Regions from separate parts of the Homo sapiens genome. Here region 1 is reported to be linked to region 2. Evidence: microRNA targets listed by miRTarBase, many of them from high-throughput screens and not tested one by one. Region 2 holds a microRNA gene; the other region holds the end of a gene's coding sequence.
Evidence for each region. Region 2 holds the annotated microRNA hsa-miR-6808-3p (GUGUGACCACCGUUCCUGCAG, at 1,743-1,763, opposite strand). A microRNA usually pairs through its seed, bases 2 to 8, with sites in the 3' UTR of a target mRNA and lowers its output. Matches are read on the target gene's strand: a 7mer-m8 pairs with bases 2 to 8, a 7mer-A1 pairs with bases 2 to 7 and ends in A, and an 8mer does both.

Region 1 (3,396 bases), not on the chromosome of region 2:
CATAAGCACAGGGTAGGCCCTCCCTCTCTGCCTGGCCACACTGCACTGCCAGGTGAATTAAACATGGCTCTTCCCCCAGGTGGTGCTTGGGGGCCCGTGCAGCAGGAGGGACATCTTCTCCGCACAGCAATGTTCCCAGATCTCACCACCCTGAGTTCTGGCCCCTGCGTTGGGCGGGTTGGCAAGTCAAGAGAAAAAACAAGCCCCTGCATCTAATTTTCTGTCTTCTCTCTGGGCCCTTCCTCTTTCCACTAATATGTCAAGAAATAACAGTGTGGTATTTTTGCTTAATTTCCCCTAAACTCTATCTGTCCTGCTTTCCACTGTGACCTCACCACCTGAACTTCCTGGACTTCCTTACACTGGAGCAGACACTGGCATCTGCTCAGCTCTCCTGTGCTCTGCAAGGGGTAGAAAAATTCACCCATCCTCTGCTATGTGCAGACTGTCCACCTTCTGCTATAGAGTTCATGTACCCACCTGTCAACCTCATAGTCAAACAAACAAGACGTTATGGGAGAAAACACCCAGCTGATGGTTGAAAAACAACCAGAGAAGAAAGACAGAGATGTAGAAAAAGAGACAAAGACGGCTGGACGCAGTGGCTCATGCCTGTAATCCCAGGACTTTGGGAGGCTGAGGTGGGCAGATCACCTGAGGTCGGGAGTTCAAGACCAGCCTGAGCAACATGGAGAGCCCCCCGTCTCTAACAAAAATACAAAAAATTAGCCGTGTGTGGTGGTGCATGCCTGTAATCCCAGCTGCTCAGGAGGCTGAGGCAGGAGAATCGCTTGAACCCGGGAGGCAGAGGTTGCAGTGAGCCAAGATTGTGCCATTGCACTCCAGCCTGGGCAACAAGAGCGAAACTCCATCTCAAAAAAAAAAAAAAAGAGAGAGAGAGACAGAGAGACACACAGTGAGAGAGAAAGACAGAAAGAGAGACAGGGACAGAGACAGACAGAGCAGGGAGAATGTGTCCCACGTGAAGAACAGGGAAAATCGGTCACAATGTTCACACAAGAAAGCAAAGATACAGAGTACAGCACTGGGAAGCAGATCCCAGGAGGAAATTAAACCTGAGCACAAATAGAAAATTAAAGCTCAGTACAAATTAAAATTGGGTAGGCCAGTCAGGTACCACCCTCTTTGAACCAGCACAGAAACCTCCCAGCAGACCGAGCTGCAGCCCATCCCGGGGTTCATAATGTGGAGTCAGGAGCCTCAGGTGGGTCTGAAGCCCCTGTCTCTGAGACTTGGCCGACCTTGGACAGGTTACTTCATGTCTCGGTCCATAGTTTCTGTTTTTATAAATGAGGAAAATAATAGAGCACGCTGTGGAGGGTTTGTAGGAGAATTTAATGTGTCCACGTTTGCCTAGAACTAAATTAGCAACTGCCCCATAGAAAGAGCTGGCTGAGTTTTTGCTGAATTCTTAAAAATCTTTCTTTTCTTTTCTTTTCTTTTTTGACGGAGTCTCGCTCTGTCGCCCAGGCTGGAGTGCAGTGGCACCACCTCGGCTCACTGCAAACTCCGCCTCCCGGGTTCACGCCATTCTCCTCCCTCAGCCTCCCGAGTAGCTGGGACTACAGGCACCCACCACCACACCCGGCTAATTTTTTTGTATTTTTAGTAGAGATGGGGTTTCACCGTGTTAGCCAGGATGGTCTCGATCTCCTGACCTCGTGATCCGCCCACCTCAGCCTCCCAAAGTGCTGGGATTACAGGCGTGAGCCTCCATGCCCGGCCTGTTTTTGTTTTTTAAAGACAAACACAGATTAACCCAAATGAGATTCTGCCGCCTCCTAGTGGTACATAGGGTAATTTTCTGTGTCAATCAGTACATCTGACCCTACAGGTAGGGTGGATACTCAGAAATGCCTCAACCAACAGCAGGCTCAGTGATTCCTTGGATTTCCTGGGGCGTGTGAGTGTATGTGCATGTCTGTGTGTGTGCGTGTGTGTATGCATGTGTGTGAGAGCATGCATTCCTGTGCATGTATGTGCAGATGTGGACCTGTAGGGTCGGCTCTCTGCCTTCACCCAGCCACACCTCCCTCATTCATTCCTGATACACGTGATTTGTCAGAAAACACTGACACCAATGTGAAGTCCTAAGATGAGCAAGTTCAGAATATCTAATGTATCGTATCTGTGGCGATGGGTGCGCTGAGGAATTGATTGTGACTGTCATTGCACAATGTACGTGTACGACAAATTATCACATTTTACACCTTGAATACGTACAATCCTGATCAATTAAATTTTAAAAAGAAAACGCTGACACGTTTTCGTAAGTCCTGTTTCCCTCACTCAGCTTTGAACAACTGTGAAGGCAGAGAGTGGGTCCGAGAGACCTATGCACCCAGGACCAGGCCTGGGGCTGCCAGATGTGAGGCCTTCAAAATTATTTATTGATGCGTGGAGTAAAGCACAACCCAGAGAACTGGGCTTGGCTCTCAGCTGTGTGTGTATAGCACAGTCTCAAGGCTAGCTCTTGACTTCTAGGAAGGTCTTTAGGGTCAGCAGGGCAGATAATTACAGCAAAGTCTCTGGGGTCACTGGAGGTTCACAGCAGACACCTAGGACAAGCTTGGAGGTGGCATCACTGCTCAGGAAATCGGCTGATTGGCTGTAGCTGGGCCTTTAGAACAGGCAGGTGACTTTAGCTGGGTCTCTGGAAACAGTCAGGTGAATAAAGCTGGGTCTCTAGAAACAGCCAGGGAACTGTAGCTGGGTCTCTGGAAATAACTGAGAAACAGTCTGTCCAAGGAGCTGCTCGATTGTAGAAGGGACCACCTGGCTAACGAACCTTCTGGATGCTGGTTAGAAACCTCCAGTCTCCAGCTCTTGTCTCCAGGACAGCTGCCTGGCTGGCTTTCTAGATGAAGAGGAATCCAACAGGAAGCCTTCCAAATGGCTGCTTCAGGCTTTTCCTAGAGTGACTTTCTACCCTCAGGTGCAGAGGCCAGGTGGGTATGGGGTCAGTGTCTGGCAACGGCTGCATACGTGATGGACTCGGCCATGGGCTTTGTGGACTGTGGGGACACAGCCCGGGCTGTCCTCTGTGTGAGGGCCCAGTGGTCCAGCTGAGCATACGTCACCTCCTGGGAACTCCCTGCAGCCAGGGCCTAAGAGGGAGAGACCCAGGGTGAGGGAGTGCCTGGTGGAGGGTGAGACGAGGGGCTGTGGGGAGGGAGGGCTGTGGCGGCCATCTCCATGGGCCCTGAGGACCCTCTCCTAAATTGCATCCGTGTGAAGAGCCCTCCCACAGGGTATTGGGGTTGGTTTACGTGACAATGAACAAGGCAGAAGGGAAGACTCCTGACTTCCAAGCTGAGCCAAAAGACATGGTGCTTCTGTCCCCTCCCTGCCACCCATCCTTGGATCCCTCCCTCT
Region 2 (3,325 bases):
GAGCAGCAGTGGAGTGGGGCGGAGCTGGGGGCGGAGCCGGGGAAGGGCAGGTAGGGGCGGCGTTCTCACCTTCACTCTGCTGACTCCCGGTGCTGCCGCTGCCATAGCTAAAGCCCGGGTCCTGGTAGGCAGGCGGGAAGCAGGGTGGGGGTCCCGGGTACTGGTAGGGGTAGCCCTGACCCAGAGGCCAGGGGGCAGCCGGGTGGGGCAGCGGGGCCAGCGTGTCCTGATCCGAAGTCCCACTGGAGCCACTGTTGAGGTTCAGGGTGGCGAGATCTGGCGGGGGAGGGTAGGTGAGGGCCGCGGAGGGGCCTCCGGCGTTCCCCTCCCCCCCGCCCTGAAGCCCGAAGCCCCCACTCACTGCTGCAGAGATCCCCGAAGACGTAGTAGCACTGCTCGGAGAAGGTGATCTTGTTGACCGTGTGCCGCAGGAAGCCGTGCTTCAGCAAGCTGCTGGCGTACTTCCGGGCCTCCCGCCGCTCCTTGAAGCCCTCCACGTGTGTGTACAGCCAGTCCACCACGTCCGCCCCTGGCCGGCACCAGCGGTCAGCCCGCAGCCTCGAGGCAAGCAGCCCTGCCCCTGGCACTATCCGCCCGCGGGGACGGCCACTCACCGATGACGGCATTGGCGATGGTGATCTTGAGCCACATGCGGTCGCGGATCTCCAGTCCCGAGTCTGGCAGCTGCATGACCCGGACGACGGCGCTCATGTCACTCTTCACCGTCAGCGGCGCCTCTTCCAGCTCTGCAAAGCACAGACAGCCCCGCTTCAGCCCCAGCATCTGAAGGCGGGGGACTCAGGGCCCTGCACCCCCAGGGGAGCCTCTGGGCAGAGCCTGCGCCAGGGCGCAAGCTGGACGGTGCGTGACAGCAGGGCCCCGGCCCACTGCAGGATGCACCCCCGTGAGGCTGGGGCGTGAGCAGGGGGGTTGGACATTTAGTCTCCCACTTCTACAGACACTTTTCATCAGGATCCTAGGCACAAACTGGGCTGACACCCCACCCTGCAGACCAGGAAGTAATGAGAACAGGGCAGGCCCCTTCCCCTCCCCGCATGCCCCACCCGAGAGCGCAGGCTGTTAGTCGTGTTAATGGCAGGAAGCAGAATGGAGACCTGGCCCCTGCCTCTGACGCCGTGGGTGCTCCCCGCATAGGGGCCCTACGTACATCCCCTGTTCCCAACACACAGACCATGAGCAGGATGGGCTGCACAAGGTGGGCACGGGTGCCTGTGCACACGTCTGTGCAGGGAGTTGGGGACAGGCAACACACACGTGTCACAGCCCCATGACGGCCACAGGCGGCCATGCTGGAGGCTGGCAGAGACGCCCCCTCCAAGCCTCGGTTTCTGCTGGGGCCCTCAGGAGCTGCCACTTACGTGGAGCACCAGGCACGGAGCTGGTTAGTGAGGAGGAGCTGGTGCGCGTGACGGCGCTGGAGCAGGGACTCGTACCGTAGCGGGGCAGGGCTCCTGTCAGTGCCGCCGTGTGGGACAGCCAGGCGGCGGGGTCGATGGGCCGCACCGGGTCAGCTGGGTGGCCGCCACGTGGCGATGACAGGCGGACAGATGGACAGGGTGGGAGGGCAGGGTGCAGGGCACAGAGGAGAGAGGCCTTCAGGCTAGGTAGGCGCCCCCTCCCCATCCCGCCCCGTGTGCCCCGAGGGCCACTCACCCCGTGGGACGGTGAAGTAGCTTCGGGGCGTTGGGTCCCAGCACTTGGCCACAGTGAGGCTGATGGGCCTGCAGGAACGGTGGTCACACAGCAAGGCCCCCATGGTCCCACCTCCCTGCCTGGCCCCTCCCGCTCCAGCGCCCCCAGCCCTCACCCCGTCTGGGAAACGATCTCCCGCAGCACCCGCACGGCATCGTCATTGCTCATGTTCTCAAAGTTCACGTCATTCACCTGCAGGGGTGGGGATTAGGGTGGTGCAGGCAGGATGTGCAGCTCAGTCCACCGCCCCCGCAGACCCACCCACAGCCGCATGTCCCCCAGCAGCCCCCGCAGACCCACCCGCAGCCGCATGTCCCCCAGCAGCCCCTACAGACCCACCCGCAGCCGCACGTCACCCCAAAGTCCCCACGGACCCACCCGCAGCTACATGTCACCCCGCAGCCCCCACAGACACACCTGCAGCAACATGTCGCCGGGCTCGATGCGGCCGTCAGCGGCCACAGCCCCGCCCTTCATGATGGAGCCAATGTAGATGCCGCCGTCTCCACGGTCGTTGCTCTGCCCCACGATGCTGATGCCCAGAAAGTGATGTCTTTCTGCAGGAAGAGCCATGAGCCGCGGCCAAGCCCCTGCCCCTGCCCCCAACCCTCGCCCCGAGGCCTCACCCATGTTGAGCGTGACAGTGACGATGTTGAGGGACATGGTGGAGTCGGTTATGCTGCTGAAGGAGGAGGCCTATGGAGGAGAGGGGGCGTGTGTAAAAGGCACGGGGCTGCCCGACACTGACTTCGCCTCCCCAGCCCCGCCCTGCTCCACCCGGCTGCCTACCCGGTCCGCCTGCCGAAGGCGCTGCTTCCTCCGCCGGCGTTTGTGCTTCCGGATGAGTCTGGATGAGGTGCTCTGCTCCGTGGAGCTGCTGAGCCTGGGAACAGACTGTCAGAGCTCAGAGGAGCTGGAGACATGGGTAGGGGGGTGGGAACCCGCTCCCCCAATACTGAGTGGGAATCGGGGGTCTAGGCCAGGCTTGTTCCAAAGCAGGCTCAGTGCCTGACGTCCACGCCCCAGGCCCTGCACACGTGATATGCATATGAGCACACACGAAAATCCCAGAGACAGGCAAACTGGGCACAGACACATGTAGCCAGATCCACTACTGACACACCTGCACACATGCACACCTGCACACACATGCACACCTGCACACACGCACCCCTGCACAAGGCACACATGCACACACCTGCACACACACCTGCACACACGCAACCCTGCACACATGCACCCCTGCGCACAGGCACACATGCACACCCCTGCACACGCACGCATGAACACACGCACACCTGCACACGCATGCACACCTGCACACACGCACCCCTGCACACTACACACCTGCACAGGCACACATGCACACCTGCATACTCACCTGCACACGCACCCCTGCACAATGCACCCCTGCACACACGCACCCCTGCACACACATGCACACCTGCACACACGCACCCCTGCACACAGGCACACCTGCACACACCTGCACACGCACGCCTGCACATGCACACCTGCACGCACACCTTCACATACACCTGTACAAGCACACCTGCACACACGCACATCTGCACACGCACACCTGCACACACGCACACGCACACATGCACAC

Region 1: miRTarBase lists LAIR1 as a target of hsa-miR-6808-3p. Seed matches in the 3' UTR shown: 7mer-A1 at 2,179-2,185 and 7mer-m8 at 325-331.

Annotation. Positions count from the first base shown.
Region 1 is chr19:54,352,287-54,355,682 of GRCh38, forward strand. LAIR1 (leukocyte associated immunoglobulin like receptor 1) reads right to left here. Exons shown (of 10, transcript NM_002287.6): 10 at 1-3,128. The coding sequence ends at 2,982. Among named protein-coding and RNA genes, the nearest start is that of LAIR1, 11 kb to the right of the region's middle.
Region 2 is chr1:1,337,908-1,341,232 of GRCh38, forward strand. MIR6808 (microRNA 6808) reads right to left here and starts at 1,801; the gene lies at 1,743-1,801. DVL1 (dishevelled segment polarity protein 1) reads right to left here. Exons shown (of 15, transcript NM_001330311.2): 6 at 2,503-2,596; 7 at 2,340-2,409; 8 at 2,131-2,270; 9 at 1,829-1,905; 10 at 1,675-1,742; 11 at 1,380-1,532; 12 at 615-746; 13 at 362-529; 14 at 70-276. RefSeq lists a silencer at 37-96.